6 separate regions of the Homo sapiens genome follow, and regions 1, 2, 3, 5 and 6 are each reported to be linked to region 4. Evidence: microRNA targets listed by miRTarBase, many of them from high-throughput screens and not tested one by one. Region 4 holds a microRNA gene; each other region holds the end of a gene's coding sequence.
What was found. Region 4 holds the annotated microRNA hsa-miR-4659b-3p (UUUCUUCUUAGACAUGGCAGCU, at 1,801-1,822, opposite strand). A microRNA usually pairs through its seed, bases 2 to 8, with sites in the 3' UTR of a target mRNA and lowers its output. Matches are read on the target gene's strand: a 7mer-m8 pairs with bases 2 to 8, a 7mer-A1 pairs with bases 2 to 7 and ends in A, and an 8mer does both.

Region 1: the mRNA of ARHGAP21 is a reported target of hsa-miR-4659b-3p. Seed matches in the 3' UTR shown: 7mer-m8 at 787-793, 7mer-A1 at 896-902 and 7mer-m8 at 1,322-1,328.
Region 2: the mRNA of TIGD2 is a reported target of hsa-miR-4659b-3p. The part of its 3' UTR that is shown has no 7-base or 8-base seed match.
Region 3: the mRNA of FCRL4 is a reported target of hsa-miR-4659b-3p. Seed matches in the 3' UTR shown: 7mer-A1 at 1,605-1,611, 8mer at 1,619-1,626 and 7mer-A1 at 1,635-1,641.
Region 5: the mRNA of CSRP3 is a reported target of hsa-miR-4659b-3p. Seed matches in the 3' UTR shown: 7mer-A1 at 3,564-3,570, 7mer-A1 at 3,350-3,356 and 8mer at 3,275-3,282.
Region 6: miRTarBase lists CDH8 as a target of hsa-miR-4659b-3p. Seed matches in the 3' UTR shown: 7mer-m8 at 451-457 and 8mer at 47-54.

What each region holds. Positions count from the first base shown.
Region 1 is chr10:24,580,927-24,585,035 of GRCh38, reverse strand. ARHGAP21 (Rho GTPase activating protein 21) reads left to right here. Exons shown (of 26, transcript NM_020824.4): 26 at 1-1,422. The coding sequence ends at 624. Among named protein-coding and RNA genes, the nearest start is that of ARHGAP21, 140 kb to the left of the region's middle.
Region 2 is chr4:89,113,753-89,117,752 of GRCh38, reverse strand. TIGD2 (tigger transposable element derived 2) reads right to left here. Exons shown (of 2, transcript NM_145715.3): 2 at 2,852-4,000. The coding sequence ends at 3,201. Among named protein-coding and RNA genes, the nearest start is that of TIGD2, 4.2 kb to the right of the region's middle.
Region 3 is chr1:157,571,690-157,575,790 of GRCh38, reverse strand. FCRL4 (Fc receptor like 4) reads left to right here. Exons shown (of 12, transcript NM_031282.3): 11 at 61-92; 12 at 181-2,044. The coding sequence ends at 267. Among named protein-coding and RNA genes, the nearest start is that of FCRL5, 21 kb to the right of the region's middle.
Region 4 is chr8:6,743,375-6,747,483 of GRCh38, forward strand. MIR4659B (microRNA 4659b) reads right to left here and starts at 1,866; the gene lies at 1,794-1,866. All of the region lies in intron 5 of AGPAT5 (1-acylglycerol-3-phosphate O-acyltransferase 5), which reads left to right. MIR4659A (microRNA 4659a) reads left to right here and starts at 1,790; the gene lies at 1,790-1,870. RefSeq lists enhancers at 1,081-1,360, 1,391-1,470, 3,083-3,132, 3,734-4,028 and a silencer at 2,893-2,942.
Region 5 is chr11:19,178,936-19,183,044 of GRCh38, forward strand. It overlaps CSRP3 (cysteine and glycine rich protein 3), which reads right to left. Exons shown (of 6, transcript NM_003476.5): 6 at 3,095-3,811. The coding sequence ends at 3,735. Among named protein-coding and RNA genes, the nearest start is that of CSRP3-AS1, 16 kb to the right of the region's middle.
Region 6 is chr16:61,649,964-61,654,052 of GRCh38, forward strand. It overlaps CDH8 (cadherin 8), which reads right to left. Exons shown (of 12, transcript NM_001796.5): 12 at 1-4,089. The coding sequence ends at 3,645. Among named protein-coding and RNA genes, the nearest start is that of CDH8-AS1, 270 kb to the right of the region's middle.

The sequences.
Region 1 (4,109 bases), not on the chromosome of region 4:
GGCGAATCCGAAAAACAGGAACCCACATGGAAAACGAAAATAGCAGATCGGTTAAAACTGAGACCCAGAGCCCCTGCGGATGACATGTTTGGAGTAGGGAATCACAAAGTGAATGCCGAGACTGCTAAAAGGAAAAGCATCCGGCGCAGACATACACTAGGAGGGCACAGAGATGCTACCGAAATCAGCGTTTTGAATTTTTGGAAAGTGCATGAGCAGAGCGGGGAGAGAGAATCTGAACTTTCAGCTGTAAACCGGTTAAAACCAAAATGCTCAGCCCAGGACCTTTCCATCTCAGACTGGCTGGCCAGGGAACGCCTACGCACCAGTACCTCTGACCTTAGCAGAGGAGAAATCGGAGATCCCCAGACAGAGAACCCAAGCACACGAGAAATAGCCACGACCGACACACCTTTGTCTCTTCATTGCAACACAGGCAGTTCTTCCAGCACCTTGGCTTCAACAAACAGGCCCCTTCTTTCCATACCACCACAGTCACCTGACCAAATAAACGGAGAAAGCTTCCAGAACGTGAGCAAAAATGCTAGTTCTGCAGCGAATGCCCAACCTCATAAACTGTCTGAAACCCCAGGCAGTAAAGCAGAGTTTCATCCCTGTCTTTAAACTGGGGGTATGTCCACTCTAGCAAGTAAAAAAACTACTGTTACACGTTCCAGTAACTCTGTCAATATTTTCTTGTATCAGAATTGTTATTATGCAGCCTTCATTTGGGCTGGTTTCATCATTTTGCACTGTGAAATAGCTTTACAGTGCATTACTACAGCCAGAAGAACATATATATATATATATATATTTAAAAATATATCGGATAGTTGTATACAAATGAGCAAGGTATTTGTTGCAACTTACTACATAGCATATACCCAAAATCACTGAAGAAAATCGCTGGCATCAGTGTGCAGCAAATTTGTTCTTTTGGTTTCATCACTAACAAAAGTGCCTCATCATAAAAATACAGTTGGTTTTTAGGGTGCCATATTGTTAAAATTAGATAACTTACTTACATTGAATAAACGAATGCGTTTTATTGGTAACAGATATCATTACATTTACCAGTTTTAACACAGGTGGATACAGAACTTCCATTCTTTAGTCATTCCAGGTGGATCTGAGTTTTATATTCAAACTTTTAATACAGTTTTTGAGTTTTGTGTGACTTGAATTTTTAATCTTTCTGTAAAATACGTAACTTAAATGAACATATTAAATGTGTATCTTTTCTTCAGATACCAGATTTGATATAATGTTGTAACATAGGTGTGTAGATAGTGGATCCTGGATGGAACTGGCTTCTTTATCGAGAAGAATATAATTCTGCATGAGGACTTAATGAATCCAAACCTGTGTCATGCCTGTGTGCATACCCAATTAAACACTGGAAATAAAAATTGTTTTGGTGAATTTTGCATGGCTTGAAACTTATTCTGATATATTTTTAGATGTCATCCATTTATAACTACCTTACATGATTAATTGGTCCTGACTTTAAAAAGGTGCCTACTATATTTATACATTCCATCTTCTCCTCTTTCTTGCTGTGGTGGGTAGAGACTCTTTCTTACAGATGCTTACATTAGCCTAACCTCACTTGTTGACTGATAGTGTTTAACTCTTCTAGGTAAAGTAATGTATGTTATGTTAATGTTCTTTTCGTGAGTGAAACGAACATGAGTTTGGAGTCAGTCCAGCTCTACCTAGGTATGTGAACTTGAACACATTATTTAACTTCTCTGAATTTGTTTTCTCATATAAACAGTTAGTTACAGTAACACTACCTATTATAAGGGTGATTAGATTTAAATGAGATACTGTTCCACTTACAGTGCCTGCCACACACTAGTTTCAAAATAGAACAAAGCTATTGTTGGAAGTAATGGTTACAAAAAAATCTCAGACTGTTAAGGCTGAGAAGGACCTTAACAGTCATCAAATCCAGAGATTGTCAACTGTCAAACATGATACTTTCTTAAAAGTATTTTGAGATTTCCCCTTTACCATCATGAAATTCATAATATATCTAAATATAACTTTACATTGAGTATGTTATGATATAGACCATAATCCCCTATTATAAAAGAAAAATGAAAGTGATTTATAATAAAATAAATTTTTCAATATGCAAATGCTCAGGTACAACTACATCATGAAAATAATATAATGGAATAGTCAGATGTTTGCTCCAGTATATAGAGTCACTAACAATGGTAACTACACATGGAGATGGTACCATGAATAGTTTGCTGCTGGCGATGAGATTTTACTAGGAGTCATGCTCTGCTTTTAAAGTTTTGAACAAAACAAAGCACACACTTCCCTTAGTTTACATGAGGGGGAGTTCTTGCAGTGTATTATTAAAAGTGTCAAAAACACTTTTTACTTATATGTTTTAAAAGTTACTTTCAAGGCTCAAATAGTTTTATATTATTTGTTCTTGCTCCTCATTTTTTCTATATTTTTTTTTCTTTTGAGAGAGAGTCTCACTATCAGTCTATTGCCCAGGCTGGAGTACAGTGGTACGATCATCACAGTTCACTGCAGAGCTGCGACTGACAGGCACATGCCACCATGCCCAGCTAACTTTTTTTTTTTTGTATTTTTTGTAGAGATGGGCTTTCTCCATGTTGCCCAGGCTCATCTCAAACTCCGAGGCTCAAAGCGATCCGCCCGCCTTGGCCTCCCAAAGTACTGGGATTACCGGCATGAGTCACCACGCCCAACCTTTCTTTGGCTATAATTTGCTCGACTTTTTAATTTCTTGAGACGATTGCTTGGAAAATTGATTTTTAGTTGTTTTCTAATATCTTCATTTTAAGGCTATATGCTGTATTTTTATTATCATTCATTTCAAAATGCTTTCTAGTTTGCATTCTGATTTTTTTCTTTAACCTGTGAGTTATTTAGCAATGTATTGCTTAATTTCCAAACATTTGAAAACTTTCTGGTTATGTTGACTCCAGCATAATGTTACATTATCATTAAACATACATTTGAAATTGAGACATCCATTTTGACCCCACTATATGGTCAATTTTGAGAAATAACACGTCTACTTGAAAAGAATATGTTTCTATCCTTACTGGATGCTTTTTATTTGGTGTATTAGGTCAAATTTAATCATGTTTTACAGATCTAGATCATTATAGATTTCTTCCCTGGCTCTTACCAGTTCCTGAGAAGTGATAGAATATTATGATATGAATGTAGATTTGCATATCTTTTATGTCAATCTTTTATTTTGAAGTTAGTTTACTAAGTGAACATAAATTTAGAATTGTTACGTCTTTGTGGTAGATTGACCCTTCTATTATGAAATGTCCTTCATAATGAGTCTCAACCAAAGCTTTATTACCTTATTTTATATATTAATGTAGCTATATTAGTTACTTTTGGTTAGTATTTGCATAATACATCATTTCCATCCGTATTAATCCTTTTGTATTTTTCTCATAACAGCATATAGATTTTCTTTAAACATAGTCTCTTAGTTGGAATATGTAACCCAGTTACATTTAATATGATTATTTATGTGTTTGGATTCACATCTACAGCTGAACCATTCATTTTCTCCATGACCAGGGCATTTTACCTACCCTTTTCTCTTGTTTCTTGCCTCTTTTGGATTAATATTTTTATTATACCATTTCCTCCTATTAGCATATTTATATGTTCTTTTCATGGACATCCTTGACTTAACTGAATATAATTTAAATTGGATTCTACTTTGTGTATTTTTTTGTAGAGACCAGGTTTCATCATGTTGCCCAGGCTGGTCTCAAATGCCTGGGCTCAAGCGATTTGCCTGTCTTGGTCTCCCAAAGTGCTGCGATTACAGGTGTGAGCCACTGCACCGACCTGGCACATTGCAGCTTTACTAGGTTTTGTCAAATTAATCTCCAGAGTTCGCCGGCAGTGTACGAGGATTCTCATCTCTTCACTTCCTCAAGGACAGTAGGGTACTGTCAGTGTTTAAAAATTTTGTTTTTAAAACAAAGTTGATGGGTGTGAGATCTCTCACTGGTTTACATTTCCTGCATTACTAGGGCAGAGACCACGTTTCAGATGTTCATTGGCTATTCTGGTTTCCAACT
Region 2 (4,000 bases), not on the chromosome of region 4:
CCAGAATGCTGCTAAGGTTAACTATATAAAGAGTGGAGAAGCTGGAGTTTGCATTCCAATCTGTTAACCTTCAACAACCCTACTCCTTCTGCTTGGCTAGTGTTTCTAAAGTGTGCAGATGAGGTATACAAAATTGATTTTAAGTTTTAGTTTGGCAAGTTTAAAAATAAGAATTCTTATGTTTAACTTGAATTAGACAAAGACCCCAGTTGGCACATGAGACCTGCAATTCTGTAGATATCATTGCTTAACATATATAGTGTGTATATTAAAAAAAAAAAAGTCAATTTGTGAAAATATTAAGGTGATACGTGAACACAGCCCTCCTGAATAAATCTAATTTTGGAGTGCAGGGTCCTCCCTATCATTCTGCTTAAATTGACTACGGCTTCTGATCCTGGCCTGCCAACTCTATATTTATTTAGCGCCCAGTTCTCCAACCAACCCCTGTATTACTGAGACTGAATTATGAAATAGTAAATATTCACACTGCAGTTTTGTGAAAAAAGCATGCTTAGTTGCCAAATACTTTGTCCATTTAGTCTGAGTTCTGTTAGTCTCTCAGGTTCCTCTAAAAAACATATACATTTTTAAAATTAACCAATAGTCAGAATTATTAACCAATAATCAGAATTTGTAGGTATTTCCTTTAAGGTGTACAAAGTCAAATGAGAGTACATATGTCTGCTTTTCAAACTAGGGTACACATAAGGGGCAAGTGTTAACCAAGATTACCATGATGTGTCTTTCTAGAGGAACTATTACAATATCTCAAGGAGGTTAAGATTTTTGTATTGCAATGAAATGCGGAATGAGAATGCATAATTTATATTACGATTAATGATACAACATGAGACTAAACCAGTTCAGTGTCATGACTGAACAAAGTTTAAGTTTGTGTTAGCAAAAAGCAATGTGAAAATGCAAAGCAGTGTTCAAATGTAAGTCATTACCCTTATCAAGTTTTAGAATCCTTGGTCTCCAGGAAGCCAAATAGCCTCAGGACTTATCTTGCAGGGTTGTATTTCCTCAAGGCTATCAGGTAGGTGAAACAGTGTAAACTGAGGAAAGTGTTTTAATAATGATGTATGAATTATCCAAAGAAAGTATATTCTGAGAGGTCTTCTGAAAAAGCTATTCTAGAATCCAGAGGCTCAGCTGAAGACACTGATGATAATCCTCACGAAAGAAAATAATCAGATGTGGGCTCTAAATTCCCCTCAAACCAAATGACAAGCTCCCTATATATAGCTGGGCCTAATTACTATAACCACTGTCTCCCATGACATTTCTTTTGCTTTTTCTACTTATCCCGTATTACTTTAGTTAGATAAAATATTCCAGGTGTCTTGCTTATTGCTATATTATCCACTGTAAAGGTATTTTATTATTATGCCAATATTAAGATTTTCTTCTATGAATAAAGCCAACATCTTTTTATTAGCAAAGTGCTAACAGAACTGGACCAAAGAAATTACAATTCCATTCTCATTTCCTGTTATAACTCCACCTAAGATATCTTAAATGCCTGCATACATCACAAAGCCTACCAGGGGGTGGTAAGTGATTTTTCAATTAGAGTAACCCTTCAGTTTTCAATGAAAGAAATCATTATTGCATTTCTGCTGAAACTAATTACTTGTATCTTTTTTTCTTTCTTTTCTTTCTGAGGCGGAGTTTCAGGCTGGAGTGCAGTGGCGTGATCACAGCTCACTGCAACCTCTGCCTCCTGGGTTCAAGTGATTCTTCTGCCTCAGCCTCCTGAGTAGCTGGCATTACAGGCGCATGCCACCATGCCCCGCTAATTTTTTCTGTTTTTAGTAGAGACGGGGTTTCACCATGTTGGCCAGACTGGTCTTGAACTCCTGACCTCAAGTGATCCACCTGCCTTGGCCTCCCAAAGTGCTGGGATTACAGGCGTGAGCCACCGCGCCTGGCCACTTGTATCTCTTTTATCTCACTTCCTTGGAAGGGTTTTCCAAATGCAGCAACCCTACTTTGAGTAACACATTGGATCTGTTTAGCATACTACTGAAACTCAATATCCACAATGGGAGTAACAGCTAACATTCAATGTTATTCTGTGCCAGGCCCTATTATAAGCCCCTATTATTTAAAATCCATATGTCAACTCGTTTACACCTCACAAAACTCTGAGGCAGGTATTACTTGTATTTAACAGATGCGGGGGTTAAGTAATTTGCCGATGGTCACACAGCAGCTGCACTCCTCTACTGCCTCTCTTCGTGTTCTACTTTATGTTAGTCTACTGTTCATCTGCTGGTTCCACAAATTAGATGTATGCTTATATTCTCAGTATTGGTTTTCACAAAAAATGCTGTATGAAAGCAAATGACATACATACTTTGTAAGCTTTCAAATGTTACATAAACGTCAAATAGCTTATTAAAGAGAAATACTACTGGCATCTATAAAGAACCCAAAAGACAGATGATAAAATGTAACGCTTACCTCTTCTAACTGCAATGGTTTGGGAACTGAAATCTATTTTCCTGGAACAGGAATGGGATTCTTTCCACAACTATTTAGGAACACTCCCTCTTATCAGATGGAAAAAAAAAAATGAAGTGCAAATCCTTTTTCTGGGACATTTAAATCATACTTCTCTTCCTTTACTATTCTCAAGAGATGGTTGATCTGAATTGCTAATTGCCCAAATACTGCTAGTACAGAAATGCAATATTTAAGGCTTTAGACTATTTTCCTTCAGTTCTCTGCAGTCGCAGTGAAATACTTCAAGCGCAATTTTTGCTGAACTCTTCTTTTCAGCAGTGGAAAAGCTGCGGAAATGGAAACTTACCCCCAACATATTTCAATTTGGAAGTTCAACTTCAAAGAAAAATCATAAAAATGTAAGTTTTATTGAGTGCCTATAGTGTGCATGGGCCTTTATTAGACACGCCAAATTCAGGCACAACAGACACAAGATCCCTGGCCTCAGGTACCTTATGATCTAATTAATAGATATTAGAAACAGTAGAAAGACAAGTTACACGTCAATGCCCAATGACTAGAGTCAACATTAAAGAGTTGTAATTTAAGTAATCCAAACTGACATCTAATTCCAAAATCATTTATAAAATGTATTTGGCTTTGGAATCCACAGGACTTCAAACAAGCAAAGTTTCACTGCAGATAGTCACAAAGATGCAGATACACTGAAATACTTAAGAGCCTTATTAATGATTTTTGTTATTTTGGATCTTCTGTTTTTTTCTTATTATGGTCCGAAGCCTCCTTAATACCAATTTATCAGACAGAAGCATGTCATCTTGTTGTTCAAGATAATCCAGTAAATTTTCAGTCCATTCAAGTGCCGCTTTATGGCTAATATGCTTCTCTGGATTCAGTTCTGTTTTTCTACTCTTACTGGAAGGCTTTTGCTCAGCAGCCTTGGTCTGGTCCTCAGCACTTTCACTGTCAGTCAGCACCTGACAGCTTGAGTCACTGCTCCGAGAGTCGAACCACTGATCAATATTCTCAATGTCAACATGTTCACATTCTTCTGTGTTCTGTAAAACTGTTGCTAAATTAGCTGCTAAAATGGCTCCTTCATCAATGTTCATACCTGAATTCTCTTCATTGCCAGGGAAAAGTTTTTTCCATGCTTTGGTTATGGTACTTGATTTTACCATGTTCCAAGCTCTTGACACTTCATAAATTGCATCCAACACTGTCAAGTTCTTCCAAAATATTTTTGGGTCATTTCCTTCATCCATGTATTTCTGGAGAAGTCCTGCTCGATAGTATCTTTTTACAGTGGCTAGAACTCCCTGGCTCATTGGTTGAATCAGACTTGTGACATTTGGTGGCAAATACTTCACAATTATTCTGCCATCATCTGAACTCAACATTTCTTCATTTGGACGTGCTGGGGGGAAATCTAAAAGAAGCACTGCTTTTTCTAAAAGTCCCTTGGATTTCAAATGCTTCTGTACCTGTGGCACAAAGTACTTTTCAAACCACTGTCTGAAAACAG
Region 3 (4,101 bases), not on the chromosome of region 4:
AGACTGAGTTCTAAGTGCATCATTATGCCCATAGTCCAGTGATTCTCTTTCTGTCCACAGCTAATACCTCCAGGACACTTCTAGAGGATAAGGTGAGTTTCATTTCCCCACAGTTTTATCTCCACCATTACCTGCAGCCTCACACTCCCTCTCGGTTTCCACTTCTTTCTTCCATTTCAGGATGTCTCAGTTGTCTACTCTGAGGTAAAGACACAACACCCAGATAACTCAGCTGGAAAGATCAGCTCTAAGGATGAAGAAAGTTAAGAGAATGAAAAGTTACGAGAACGTCCTACTCATGTGATTTCTCCCTTGTCCAAAGTCCCAGGCCCAGTGCAGTCCTTGCGGCCCCTGGAATGATCAACTCATTCCAGCTTTCTAATTCTTCTCATGCATATGCATTCACTCCCAGGAATACTCATTCGTCTACTCTGATGTTGGGATGGAATGGCCTCTGAAAGACTTCACTAAAATGACCAGGATCCACAGTTAAGAGAAGACCCTGTAGTATTTGCTGTGGGCCTGACCTAATGTATTCCCTAGGGTCTGCTTTAGAGAAGGGGGATAAAGAGAGAGAAGGACTGTTATGAAAAACAGAAGCACAAATTTTGGTGAATTGGGATTTGCAGAGATGAAAAAGACTGGGTGACCTGGATCTCTGCTTAATACATCTACAACCATTGTCTCACTGGAGACTCACTTGCATCAGTTTGTTTAACTGTGAGTGGCTGCACAGGCACTGTGCAAACAATGAAAAGCCCCTTCACTTCTGCCTGCACAGCTTACACTGTCAGGATTCAGTTGCAGATTAAAGAACCCATCTGGAATGGTTTACAGAGAGAGGAATTTAAAAGAGGACATCAGAAGAGCTGGAGATGCAAGCTCTAGGCTGCGCTTCCAAAAGCAAATGATAATTATGTTAATGTCATTAGTGACAAAGATTTGCAACATTAGAGAAAAGAGACACAAATATAAAATTAAAAACTTAAGTACCAACTCTCCAAAACTAAATTTGAACTTAAAATATTAGTATAAACTCATAATAAACTCTGCCTTTAAAAAAAGATAAATATTTCCTACGTCTGTTCACTGAAATAATTACCAACCCCTTAGCAATAAGCACTCCTTGCAGAGAGGTTTTATTCTCTAAATACCATTCCCTTCTCAAAGGAAATAAGGTTGCTTTTCTTGTAGGAACTGTGTCTTTGAGTTACTAATTAGTTTATATGAGAATAATTCTTGCAATAAATGAAGAAGGAATAAAAGAAATAGGAAGCCACAAATTTGTATGGATATTTCATGATACACCTACTGGTTAAATAATTGACAAAAACCAGCAGCCAAATATTAGAGGTCTCCTGATGGAAGTGTACAATACCACCTACAAATTATCCATGCCCCAAGTGTTAAAACTGAATCCATTCAAGTCTTTCTAACTGAATACTTGTTTTATAGAAAATGCATGGAGAAAAGGAATTTGTTTAAATAACATTATGGGATTGCAACCAGCAAAACATAAACTGAGAAAAAGTTCTATAGGGCAAATCACCTGGCTTCTATAACAAATAAATGGGAAAAAAATGAAATAAAAAGAAGAGAGGGAGGAAGAAAGGGAGAGAGAAGAAAAGAAAAATGAAGAAAAGTAATTAGAATATTTTCAACATAAAGAAAAGACGAATATTTAAGGTGACAGATATCCCAACTACGCTGATTTGATCTTTACAAATTATATGAGTGTATGAATTTGTCACATGTATCACCCCCAAAAAAAGAGAAAAAGAAAAATAGAAGACATATAAATTAAATGAGACGAGACATGTCGACCAAAAGGAATGTGTGGGTCTTGTTTGGATCCTGACTCAAATTAAGAAAAAATAAAACTACCTACGAAATACTAAGAAAAATTTGTATACTAATATTAAGAAATTGTTGTGTGTTTTGGATATAAGTGATAGTTTATTGTAGTGATGTTTTTATAAAAGCAAAAGGATATTCACTTTCAGCGCTTATACTGAAGTATTAGATTAAAGCTTATTAACGTAAATTCGGCGTACATGAAATTAGTAGATGAAATGATGTGATTTGGTTTGAAATAACCCGATGAGGTGAGGGTGGGTAGGAAGTGGGTAGGTATAGATGTAGCAGGATCAGTCATATGTGCACCATTTCTGGAGCTGAGTGAAGGGTACATTATGGGAAGAAGAGGAGGCTTATACTATTCTTTACTTTTGCAAGTTTTAATTTTCCATAATAAAGAGTTAAAATATCTACACCCAGAAGACCACCTCGTTATACCACTCCATTATTCTACTCTTGTCTGAGGTGCTGCTCACTTCCGTTACAGTGGTGGCTTCGTGTCTCCCTTCTTTTTCCCTTTCGTCCCCACAGCCCATTCTCAGCACTGCGGTCACTGTGCTCAAAACCCTGCAGTGCCTCCCCATCTCTCTTACAGTGAAAGCCAGATGCCCTAAGTGCCCACAAGCCTCCACCTGATCGCTCCCATTGCCTCCAGTCTTCTGCCATTCTTCCCCTTAGCACTTCACTGAGGAAGCGCTGCCTTCTGCACTGCTTCTTGCACACATCAGGTAAATGCCTGTTTGAGGCCTTTGCATGGGCTGCTCTCTGCTTAGAATGCTCTTCCTCCCTGATATCCACCAAGGCTTTGAGGTCTGCCCTGGTGACTCAAGGCTTTGAGGCACATGTAAATCTGGAAACTACTTCCCCCCATCTTTGGCACCTCCAGTCTCCATTACCCTGATTTGCTTTCTTTCCATAGCGCTTATCACTTTCAAACATACTTTGAAACAAACGTTGCCGATTTACTACACTTACTGCATATCATCTCTCTAAAAACTAGATTTCTTAAGGGCAACAAACTGTGTTCTCTTTGTTCATTGATATACCCCAAGTACCTAGAACTCTGCCTGGTACATAGTAGGTGTTTAATCGATATTTTTGAATGAATGAATCAACTATTTCAGTAAGGAAAATCATTGCCCTCTCCATGATGGAAAGGATCCAATGCAAATAATCCACAACCACAGAGTACACAGGCCCCTGAGGAGCTGACTCCATCAGAGGCTCAGGTTTGGCCTCTGTGTATGTCAATTGGGCACTTAGCAGTGGTCAGACTGGCCTGGGTGAGTACATCCTTATGTTACTGAATCCTTCCATAAACTCTGCACCTTCCACCAAGGCCGCTTCATTAATGAGCCCTTTGAGCAATTGCTGGAGTAACTGGAGAAAGAGGCTGCCTGACATTCAGCCAGAGCAGATGATCACAGCCTCCTGATTCCTGAGATCTTCCTCAGTAAGGCCTTGGGTGAGTATTCTCATAAGACACAAATATTCTCATACTCTGGATCCATTCAAAGAGGTCCAACAATATGATTCTTGCCTAATCTTGCAGTTTTATTCTTTCCAAATTCCTGACCATACAGCTCCAAACACTAGCCACTGCTCATGAATCAGAGTAAAGCCTCACCTCTGGACATCTCATCTTCCAGTCAAAGTGGACCACTGGGAATACCCATCTCTGTCACAATCCTCCAGGGATTCCTGAATGTGGTTGAGGTGCTGCAATTGTCACCCTCAGCTGATGTGAGGGCATATTTAAACCAGGATAGACTGTTTTTTCCTCCTCTGTCAGTTGGTCATAGGGAACTCACCACCAGGTCATAGTTGCTGGTTGAAACAGAGAGGTAAAAGAGCAGCAGAATATGAGCTATTCATTGTTTATTCAACTTACCATTGCTTTCAGACCATTCTGGAGTGAGACCTCCTGCAAATCACTTCCACTTAATGATGGAATAATCCTCAATATATTATGAATTTTTGCTTTGTGGATCAGACAGCTTCCAGTTCATGGGGAACAGCTCAGGTCTCTGGTGGGCCATGTTCAAGTGTTCAGTGAAAAAGAAAAGTTACTTGAAGAGAACATAGTTTTGCTCCAAAATTTTATGGTTCTCAACTGTGATTCTCCTGTAGAGCCTTGCTGTAGCCTTTACACAACATTCTGACCAGCCATGACAGTTTTGGGCTCTTTGGATATGCTGGATCCTAAAAGCTAAGGTCAGTGCTGCTTGCACTGTAGCTTAGACA
Region 4 (4,109 bases):
AGAGCTTCGCTTGACTGGCCCAAAAGGATGTCTCAAACTCAGCATATTGAAGATAGAATTTATCCTTCCATGCATACACTCATATTTCTTGTCTTGGTAACTCCATCATTCAGTTTTTTTGCCTAAGTTTTATTCACAAAAAGAACAAATTGATAGCAGTTGCATACCTCTTATAGGAAACTTAGACATGGAGGAAGAAGCTGTTCAGATGGGGTCCTGCAGAAGTGCAGGCACTGTGGTAATATTTAAACTTTTCTCAGCTGTTCGAAGGGTTTTGTTTTAACTAATTTTCCTTAGACTTGTTTTAGGTATTTGGCTTTCTAATGGTTATAAGGGATGTGGAATTAAATGTATCTTAATCTGCCACCTGGACCCATTAAAGTAAGCCCCTATGGTGGTTTTTTTTTTTTAATTGCCATGGTTAAAACCATAGTTGCTAGCGAAGGTGACATACTTAAGCTTTTTGAACTCTCTTAAAAGAAAACAGAAATTTAATGATGTGTCTATAATGGCAAACCAGATACCTAGAATTTCCATGTTATTCATAGGGTGAATAACACTGGCGATTGTAGAGATTTGAGAGTTCTTTCAAAACAGGAGAACAAAGGGAATAAGCTACAAAGCAATTTTTTTCTTTGTAGACTTAACTGAATAAAAATTATTTTTATGTCTCAAACATCATATGAACAAATTTAGTTGGCAAATGGCAAGCTAATAATATTTTATAATATAGGATATTAATATACTTAATATTACAAAAGTGCTTCATAATTAGAAAAGACATAAACTAGAAAAATGGGAAAAGGGCATGAATAAGAAATTCAAGAGATACAAATGACCCACACACTTGAACAAATGTTTATTCTTTCTCATAATCAAAGAAGTAGAAATTAAATGAATACTTTGAAGCCAACTTCTGAGAAAGCATAGCAAACAAGAAAGCTAGTGCTCAGCTTTGTGTGGTAACGGCACTCTCGCTCTTAAGAAGGTGTGTTTGCTCCCTGTGGCTGCTCTCAGGCAGGGCCACAAACTTGGTGGCTTAAAACACCACAGATTTCTTCTCTTACATTTGAGAAGTCTGAAATGGGTCTTACTCAGCTGAAATCAAGGTGTTGGCAGGGCTGCAGTCCTTTGTGGAGGCTTGGGGGGATCTTGTTCTCCTGTACGGGGTCCTGTGCTTGGTTCGGGGTCCTGTGCTTGGTCTGGGATCCTGTGCTTGGTTCGAGGTCCTGTGCTGGGTCCAGTGCTCTGCTTTTACCACCTTGAAGTTCATCTGGAAATGGCACTGGCTCGCCCACACCATATAGCTGACTCTGGTTCTCCCTCCTCCTCACTCGCTCTAAACCTGTGTTTTTGGCTGATTTCTAATCTCTCTTTCCTTGGCCCTTCTGCAGCTTGCAGGGCCTTCTGCAGCTCTTGTCTGCCCCAGCCCCGGGGTCTGCCCATCCCAGTGCTGGGCTGTTCTGTTCCTGCCCTGCCTTTCCTCAGCCCTTGGCAACCCTGTTTGTTTTCTCCCTTCCTTAGCAGTGGAGAACATCGTAAGATCAATGCTGACTGCCTTCTGCAGCCAAGCCAGGCCATTTCATTTCAGCCGAGCCAAGTCTGTGTGGAGCAGTTCTTTTATTTTTCTCCTTTTGACTACCTCATGGTTTTCACGGATTTTTGTTCTCTTCACATTCAAGGATTTTTTGCTTTCAGAAAGTTATATTTCTCTGGAAAGAGTGCACCCAATATCCCTTTTGATTTCAAAATCTTAATGTGGAGTCTCTTGACTTGGATTTCTTTGGAAGAAACTGCTGAAGCTGCCATGTCTAAGAAGAAAACTTTGGAGAAAAATTTTCTTCTTAGACATGGCAACGTCAACAGTTTCTAAGCTCTTGATTCCGTCTACCCTGTCTCCATCGTTGCCTCAGTCATCTGCCTTACTTCTCTGCAGGGGTTTCTCCCAGCTTGCAAATGTACTCCAATTCTGAAATAACTAAGTCTATAGCTGTGCAAAGAGAAGTCTGGGCCCCTTGCTTTCTTGTGTTTGACTCCATCCACTCTCCAGAAATGAATCCCACTTCTCACTTAACCACTGACCTCCAAAGCATCGTATCATTTGTGTCAGTTGTCATATTTGTTAACTTTCACATAACTTTTGACATTATTTATACCTTTATAACCAGGAAATAATTTTAACTTTATTGTAGAAATAAACAATGGAGTATAATTTTTCTTGTTGAAGATAAATATCACCTCCTCTTCCTTTAAACATCTCTTCCCTTTGTTTTTGTATTACATTGGTTTCCCCCCTTTTTTTATTTCCTGGGTTGTCGTATTCCCTGTTATTATTTTTACCTTTTTTTTTTTAATGTGGATGTTTCCGGAGTCTGTATTTCTTGCCTTTTCATCTTCTGCCCTTTATTATTCTCAGCCACTGCCATTACTTCAGTTATCCATTCCCATGGTTTCCACATGCTTAGCTTCGGTTGATTCTTGCCATTTTACAGACCATATTTCCAACTACTTCTAGAATGTTTTGTTCCTTCAGCCTCAGTATGCCCAATTTGAACTCATGTTCTCTCTCCCCCTTCTTTCTTCCTTCTTTCTTTCGCTCTCTCTCCCTTCCTTCTTTTCTTTCCCTCCCTCCCTTTCTTCCTTCCCTCACTCGTTCTCTCTTGCTTGCTTGCTTTCTCTCCTCTCTCTCTTTTCTTTCTGCATTCTTCTCCCTCCCTCTCTTCCTTCTCTCCCCCACTCCCCAACTTCCAGGCTAAAGCAGTCCTCCTGAGTAGTTAGGACTACAGACATACACGTGCCACCGCGCCCGGCTCCGTGTTCTCTTTGTTTCCCTGCCTCCTGCTCTTCCACTTATCTTTGCATGGCAGGTGGGTGCACGCAGGCATGCTCTGCATGTCTTCCTCTTGGCCATTCCCCTTCTAGTTATGGTGTGGCTTTATCTACGCGTTCTGGAGCAGAAGCCTAGTCACAAAGCTATTTTTTTAAAACATTCATGATAATTCATTTCCTTTTATGTTTTAAAAATACTAGCTTTCTGTCTTTATTTCCTTACTAACTTACTTGGATGCCAGTAATTAGTTGTTTTAGTGAACACCACAGAGTGATATTTTGAAACTTTGGACTTCATAAAGTTGGATGAGCTCCAGTAGCAAAGAAGGAAGTGTTAACTAGTTTAACTGACAAATAAATGCTTCCCAGCTTGGTGTGCGATTGAGATTTTTGTTGCAAGTTTGTGAATCAATTTAACTGCCCCTGCCCTGGGGACTAAAGTCAGATACGTGCTTGTGGGAATCTTTGTCTTTCCCACACCACCCTGCATTTTAAAACCTCTTGTGTGGGACAGTCCCACCATGTAATAGCTGTTCTTCCTTACTCAGCTACTTTCCCTCCAGAGAGGCCAGTAGAAAATCTAGACTAGTTTTTTATAGTCTATTTTCATGTCACTTATTGAGAGCTACTGTTTTCTGTTAAATTGTCAGTAAATATTTTAATCAAGGAAAAGGGAGGTAATAGGAAGGAGAGAAGAACAAATCCTTAACCCTAGTAGGAACCTAATGAATGGGATTTGTTCTGGATAATTGCAGTAGTCCCCCAGCTAAAGAACCTTTTAAAAATATGTCAGATATACCCAAGAGGATTGAAATCGTATGTTCATACAAAAGCTTGTTCACCTGCAGCCTTCATATGCAATTCCTATGAATGTTCATAGCAGCATTATTCATAATAGCCAAAGTATGGATGCAACCCAAATGTCCATGAAGCAATTAATAGGTAAACAAAATGTGATCTGTTCACACAGTGGAATACTAACTATTCAGCCATAAAAAGGAATGAAGCACTGAGTCCTGCAGCCACACAGATGAACCTCAGATCCATGCTGAGCGAAAGAAGCCAGAAACAGGAGGCCATGTGCTGTGTGACTGTATTTCTAGGAAATCTTGAGTCACCATGGGCAAGATGCTATCACCTTTGTTCAGTGGCCAGAAGCGAGGGCACTAATATTTACCCTTGCCGGGGTCTACTAGATTGAAGCGTTTCCGCTAGGCCATAAACTTCCAACACGGTGACTTGTACATGTAGATATTTGATCAATATATAGCAAATGAATA
Region 5 (4,109 bases), not on the chromosome of region 4:
CTTTGGGAGGCCGAGGTGGGCAGATCACCTGAGGTCGGGAGTTTGAGACCAGCCTGACCAACATGGAGAAACCCCATCTCTACTAAAAATACAAAATGAGCTGGGTGTGGTGGCACATTCCCGTAATCCCTGCTACTCGGGAGGCTGAGGCAGGAGAATCGCTTGAACCTGGGAGGTGGAGGTTGCGGTGAGCTGAGATTGTGTCACTGCACTCCAGCCTGGGCAACAAGAGGGAAACTCCACCTCAAAATAATAATAATAATAATAATAATAGTGTCATAGAATCAAGAGAGGATTCATTTCAGAGAGGAAGCAGTCAGTTGGCAGGAACTAAGGAGCAGCTTGAGCAGAAGTTGAGAATAGCTGATGAAAGACAAAAGAGTTTGTGATTAAGAGGTTATTAGTAGGGCCGGGCGCGGTGGGGATTGGCAAATCACTTTAGGCCAGGAGTTCGAGACCAGGCTGGCCAACATGGTGGAAACCCCATCTCTACTAAAAATACAAAAATTAGCCAGGCATGGTGGTACACACCTGTAATCCCAGCTACTCAGGAAGCTGAGGCAAGAGAATCGCTTGAACCCAGGAGGCAGAGGTTGCAGTGAGCTGAGATAGTGCCATTGCACTCTAGCCTGTGCAACAGAGAGAGACTCCATCTCAAAAAAAAAAAAAAAAAGAGGTTATTAGTGGCCTCAGTTATTAGTGGTGGTTGAGGATGGAGAGTAGAGGCAAGGAAGACTAAAGAGTCTAAAAGACTAAGGACTAAGTGGAATCTAGTCTTACAGCTTGGCTCTGAAAGGAGAGAGGAGACGGCAGTAGCTTGTGGCATAATAGCAAGGTTTAGTCTTTGTTTTATTTTAAATCCAAGACAAACCCAATCATGTTTTTCAGGGCCAGGGGAATGTGACTGTTATGCTATTTTGCCATAACTTTATTCCTTTCTTCAAATATGTATATAGCCACATTGGAGACAACAAATTTGAATCTCTTTCACAAATATCAGGCAAAATCTTGATCATGCCCCCTGTGACTTAGGATGGACGCTGGCACCATGAGTGGAATCACTTGGATGTAGCACAGTCTATATTTCAGGTGTGTAGTAGTCATGGGAGCTCATGCAATAATAAATATCCTCCCAATCTCAGTGGCTTCACACAATGTTTCTTTCTCATGTCATGGTCTGTTTAGCTGTTAGCAGGTGTTCTTCCATGCAGTGACTCAAGCTGCTTCCCATCTAGTGGCTCCACCATTCCTAGGGCCTCAGTATCCACTGGACTTCTGCATCCAGACATATGGAAAGAATGGAGACTCTCCTGAAAGGTCATGGAGGCCAGGACTTCATTGGGCAAACTCACTCATGTGTCTCAGTGAACAGCAAGGGAGCCTGGGAAATGTAGTGGAACAGCATACCCAAGAAGTGGAAGGGAAATACAACTATTGCTGAACCACAATAAGCTTCTTCCTTTGTTTTGTTTTTTTCTAAACTCATTCAGTCCACTATGTAATAAACTTTTAGATTCTAGCAGAATTTGCATTTAGCCTGGCCTATACTCTCCCCTATTTCATTCACTCAACAAATGTTTATTAGGTGTCTTCTATGTGTCAAGCACTGTGAATGGCTTGACATGTCACATTCTTACAAGGAGGCAAATAGGAATTCAAAATTTCAATACGATGACATAAGTACTATGCTAATTACATACCGGCTATGGGAGTACAGAGGTAGATTAATTCTGCCCAGGTAGTTCAGGAACAATTTCCAGAGGAGATGGCATTTGACCTGTGACTTGCTTAATAGGAGTTCACCAGGCTAAGAAGTTGGATTAGTGGGTAGAGATGGGGGGAGGTTCCCATCTTCCAGGAATTCTAGGCAGAAGGAACAGCATTAGCAAAGACATGATGGGGTGAGGGTTCTGGGCATGTTTGGAAAGCTCCGAGTCTTTGAGTGTAGCTGGAACTTGTCTGGAAGAGATTGTCTAAAGCTAAGTTGAAGGGGTAAGGCCAAGGCCAATTTGTGAAAGTCTTTATGTGATACACTGTTATGGGCTGAACTGTGTCTCTGCAAAATTTATTTGTTGAAGTCCTAACCCCCAGTACCTCAGAATGTGATGGCTGCATGTGTAGATAAGGGCCTTGAAAAAGGTAATTAAGTTACAGTGAGGTCATTCAGGTGGTCCCTAATCCAATATGACTGGTGTCCTTCCAAGAAGTGGAGATTAGACCACAGACACCCACAGAGCAAAAACCATGTGAAGACAAAGGGAGAAGACACCCATCTCCAAGCCAATGAGAGTGGTGTCAGAAGAAACTAACACTGCTGACACCTTGATCTCAGACTTCAGCCTCCAGAAATGTGAGACGATACGTTTCTATTAAGTCACTCAGCCTGTGGTACTTTCTTATGGCAACCCTAACAGACTATTACACATCCTAAAAAGAGGGATGGAGGGGATGTATTCTAGAGACATTTGGAGTCAGAATCCAGGAGACTTGAGAAGTGAGGCAAGGTCAGGTGAGGAAGAGAGCAAAGCTAAGGATGGCTAAAGTTTTTAGCTTCAGATTTCCTGGGTAGCTGGACGGTGGGGCGAGTCACTGTGAAATGCAGCAGAGGAGGAGGAGGTTGCATTGTCCTGTGGTCATTTCTCAAATATGTGTTACCCCTCAGCAAACCTGGAAATCCCATGCATAGTGCCAAGATCGTGTACTGCTTTTAAAGCTCATGTAGGGCCTTGTCCAAGACACTACATAAACAGCACTGAATAGATGCTCATTTCAAAGAAAGCCTTTCCCAGGGGACTTGGAGGGTGGAGAAACCCATGGTTTAGCCAAGTATTTTATAGTTCTTATCACTAGATTTTCACTTGTTTCATGTATTCCAGATAATTCAGAATTGCACAGTGCTGGGGGAAGTGCTGTGGTTGTTAAAAGCAGAAGCCCAAGAAGTGCTTGAGCTGCTGAAACTTGCTGAAGAGGCAGAGAAAGACATTTCTAATTGGCTGCATTTCATTTGCAAGGCTGGCAAATTTGACGTAGAAGTCTTAAGAAAATTGCTAAACCCCAGGGAATTGTCCTAGAATAAAAGAAAATCATCCTCATGTCATTTATAATACAGAGGCAAATGCCACGCTTTATTGTCATTTCTGAGTTTTCACGAGATGTGTAACATTACAAAGCCCCACGATAGGACAAAGGGATCAACTCTTCAGCAATTTTATTAGTTTTGATTTTCCTTTTAGATTTTGCTATCATGTTCTCTATTTTCTCCCAGACCCCCTGTTTTCTTCTCCATTAGCAGTAACTAGAAAGACACTTGGCTGACAGATTCTGAAAGACTGCTTTCCTTTGCGCATTGTTTCTTCCTTCTCACTCCTTTCTCAGTTGACATCCAAATTTATTATATGCTCTGCAACTCGTTTTTTGAACTAGCTTTATGTTTTTGAAAATTTCTATCTCAAAGAAAAGATCTAGAGCCATACAAGATAGCACTAAAACATTTATTTATTGCCTCTCCCATTCCAAGCATTATAAATAATAAAGCATTTGTTATAGATTAAACTTTACATAATTTTCTTCCAAAGGCCTCTTCTAACATTCAGTAAAGACCTGATCACTTCTGAGGAGAAACACATAATGTACGACTACAAAGGAGAGGCTATTTGGGGAAAGGTATCGATCTGTGCAGGATTACTTGGCAAGTGTTTTAGGCTCGCAAAAAATCTGAGAAACGGCGCACCTCTTCATTCTTTCTTTTCCACTTGTTGTGTAAGGCCTCCAAACCCAATACCCGTGGGGCCAAAATTTTTGGCATAGCAAACTGTGAATGAGAAGAGGATGAAGGGAGAGACAATGCATTGGTTAGTGCCATTTTTTTCAGGGCTTTCTGTCTGAGCACAGTCCTTTTAATTATTAGAGACATCCTTTTGATAGATTTATGCATAAGTTCGCCAGGCACGGTGGCTCATGCCTGTAATCCCAGCACTTTGGGAGGCTGAGGCAGGCAGATCACCTGAGGTCGGGAGTTTGAGACCAGCCTGGCCAACATAGAGAAACCCTGTCTCTACTAAAAATACAAGAAATTAGCTGGGCATGGTGGCATGTACTTCTGATCCCAG
Region 6 (4,089 bases), not on the chromosome of region 4:
TAAGCATTCTTGCTTCACTGGTGATACCAGTAAATCTAAGTTTCCTTTTCTTCTATATATACACATACACTTAACTGCAGATTTTTTTCAAAACAGTTTCACTTTAAAGTTTACACCCTAGAAGTCATAATTCTGTGTGGCAAGGTTAACACTTGAATTTAAAAATAGCATATTTTAGTCATCGTATTATAAATGTTTAGAAACTTATAACTATACTCATAAAAATATTGTTAAGAAATGCCCCCCTTAATACTCTTTAATATTCATATATGGATGTTTAAGAGACACTTTGCTAATATGATTTGATCAAATCATAGGCAGAGTAGAGGCTGAATTGATCCCATGTTGTGTCCAATCACCCAGGGATGCATCAGTTCCCTAGGTGGGAACCTTGAATTGTGAGGTAGGCAGAGGGAGATAACTTTGTCTCACTTGGCTCCAACTTAATCATTCTTCTCTATTTAGCAGAGAGTACTCTTGTTTCTGCTATGTCAATGTTGATGAAACAGACAACAATGCACATAGCTTTAAAAATATAGTCATTTCAATAAAGTTTTTAAAATGTGTTATTTAACAAATTGAGCATGGGATACTTAAATCTTAGAAAATGTTAGGAACCTTATTGATATCTTTTGGTTGGGAAAGTCCTGGCAAGTCTATTGCTAAAGTAAAACTTCAAGTCAAAATGTGTGTTTTTTATTTGTTTGTTGTGTGTGTGTGTGTGTGTGTGTGTGTGTGTGTGTGAGAGAGAGAGAGAGAGAGAGAGAGAAAGAGAGAAAGAGAGAGATAGTTCCTGAGATTTTTAGTTTAATTCATGACACTCTAAAAGTATAGGTCAATCTTATTAGGATCAAGGTATTAGTCACTTTATTCTATGTTACAAGACCTGAAATAGGCTTTTAAACACAAAATGCTGACACTGTGGTGGCAAAGAAAGTCAGCAAGAGATGCAAGCTTTCATTCTGTGTTCCTAGGCAAAGAGAATACTTAGGCGATATTTGGGCAACTAGTAGAGCAGACATTATCTCCTGCTCACAGAAACCACTGTACGAAGATTATCCTGTTGATTACCAATATTTGAGGATACAGATTTTATACTCCTTAAAAAATACTGTAATTATTCTGTTAGACATATTTGTGTGTCTATAATCTTTGGGCACTTCAAAGTACACTAGAAATGAGTCTGGTGTTCAAGAGATACATAAAACATAATAATCTCTCCTTGGTTTGGAAGGTGTAAGATAGTTGGAATATTACTATTGGTTATTACTGCAACTACTACTAATAATTTACATTCACCAAGCACTTGTTTTAGACACTGTGCCAAGTCCTAGTATATTTTAAAGTCATGTTGGACCATCCCTTTGACCTCAAGAAAAAGTGTTCACTAGCCGTAATAATACGCATAAAAGATGACTTATTCTCAGCAACAGAAACTCAATAAAAAGTTGATTAAGCCACCGGATAGTTATAAATTGTTAGTATAGTATTTAAACATGCAGTTTCTGTCACAGTGAAGGTGGCCTCTAGAAGTTGGTGCGTTCAGCTTTTGAGTCAAAAACCGTTCTCTTCTTAGCAGCCCCGCACCAATGACTGAGATGACAGAGGACCACAGCCTGACTGCTTTAATGGATGTGTTTTCACTCTAGAACCCCCTGTCAGACTGGCAGAGATTTTGCCAGGTCCGCACTGCAGTCTAAGACTCTCTTGCCAAATCCTGCTCCCAATCCCTCTATTGTTACAAGTTTTAGGTCTGCAAACTTGTCTGAAGGTTTTCCCTGCCCAATGCGTCTGCTTCCAGAAGGACCCAAATGACACAGCTGGACTAGCCTTTAGGTGTTCCATGTTCCTCTTATGTCCCTGCTGGTATCTTGCTGTGTGATCACTGGCAAGCCATTTCTCTTCTCTGTTTCTCTATAATAAAGAGTCTTACAAACAAAAGTGACCCTTGGGATGATTTGGTTGAGTATTCTAGAATTTTAGTTTGAGTTGATGATTCTGTTAATAGATCTTCCACTGATTGAAAAAAAAATTAATGACAACAAAGGTATTTATAAAAATATATTTCACAAAGTAGGAAACAATACAGGAGTTTCTCTGAATACAATACATGGAGTGAATAAACAATATTGCATTAAAGCAAAGTAGAAAATTAAAATGATCTGCATGTAATACTTGAGTTTTATCATACATTTTCTACTCCTAAATGGCAGGTTTGCATTACAAATTAAATATGCTCACATCTTCTAGTGCTGTTCCTTTTTGGAGTCTAAGACATTCTGTGCATCACCATGAAGATCAGGGATAGGAGTGCTAAAAACGTAAACAGTGAAATTATGTACAAATCAGTTCCTGCTCTAAAACTGTGGGGGTAAATTGAAGCATGTTTATTGGGCAGGGCATGATGTAGGTATCTAAAAGTCTAGAGTTTAAATATTCACAGGAATCAATATACTTTAGGATGTTTGTGCTTGTAGTAAAAACACCAAATACTAGGATTATGAACAAAATAGAAAACAGTCCAAAAGTTTGTCTGGGAAGATGCTGTTCCTGCCATCTCCAGTTACAATAACACTTTCTACTCTAAAGAGACTATTAGCTCTCCTTTCGATAATATTGCCTGCCATACTCATCTCATCAAAATGTACATGTATTAAACATTCATTGTATATATATTTATATAAAACAATCTAAAGGATTATTAATGGATATAATTTAGTTTTTTCCCATATATCCCCTTAATCTATAGATTACCGACCTTAATAAATAAAAGCATTAATGGACATCAATAAAATATTTATTTCGAGGATTAAACAAATAAATTCACGCGCTAGCAATAAAACCATCTGTCTCTTATGTAGTCCACTGTGTGATACAGTTTATCTTTGTGTCCTTGTGGAAGAAGATGAAGAGGAGGGAACGAGGAATCCTGCTTCTAGAAAACAAGCATGTTTGAATGGGATTTCTCTCCTCCCACCACTGAATTGGCAAGCCCCACCCTGGAATGGATTACGAACATGTGAATATTTTAAGGCTCGACACAATATTTAAAGATGCTATTCAGTCTCTAGTGAGTGGGGCCAACAATTATGTACAATGTGTGGTCACCGTACTGTATAATCTAGGAGGCCTCTCAAAACTCCAAAAAGTTATAATGTACAGCAGACCAAGTATTGCTTTATCATTTGTGGCGGGATCCTTATTGGTGAAGGGGAAAAAACCATTTGCATTCATAAAAATCCTTGCAGAAGACACATATCAGCAGCAGATTCCTTGCAGGTCCGTATTTTTTTTTCTAAGAAAGCACCTTTTAATTATGATTTTTTCCTCTATTTAAACCATTTATCTAAGGATTAGCCAGGATCCCAATCTTTGTCTGTGGTGGTCAGGTAAATATCAAATATCCAAGGACTTCTAGACACTCCACATACTTAATTCACACTCCACAAGATTTATAACCTCCTAACATATACTTTTTTATTTTATTATCTTTTTTTGGTTCAACATTAAAATGTGGTTGAGTTTATAGATGACTGGTGCTAAACTTGCCTCTAAAACAAATAGCCACATTGGTTGTATCTAAGGGGAGTGACCCTAGAATATTACAGAATGCTCAGTTCCAGTGATTTATTTATAATCCACTGTCAAGTTTCTTTGTCACTTTCACCAACAGAGTAGAGTTCGCCCAGTCTCTTAAAGCGGGGACCCCAGTCACTGAGGTAGTCAAAATTCTGGTCTGAGTCTGATGTGGTGGACTCCAAGGAGCTGAGGGAGCCAGCCACTGACCCTCGGCCTTCATAGCCATATATCTGAATGGAGTCATATGGCGGGGCCGTGGGATCATTATCTGCCTCATGCAGCCTTACATTTATAAATTCATCGACATCAACACCATTTGGAACTGGAGCAAGCCCTTGCCTTGGCATAAACTGCAAATCTGGTTTAATATCCTTACGGGGTAAAAATCCATTAATTCCATCTGGATTTTGTAAAGTTGCAATGTCAAAAGCCTCTGTGTCCTCCTCCCCTCCTCCTTCATCATCGTAGCGAATGATGTTTTCTCGAACGTCTTCATCATCTTTGATAATT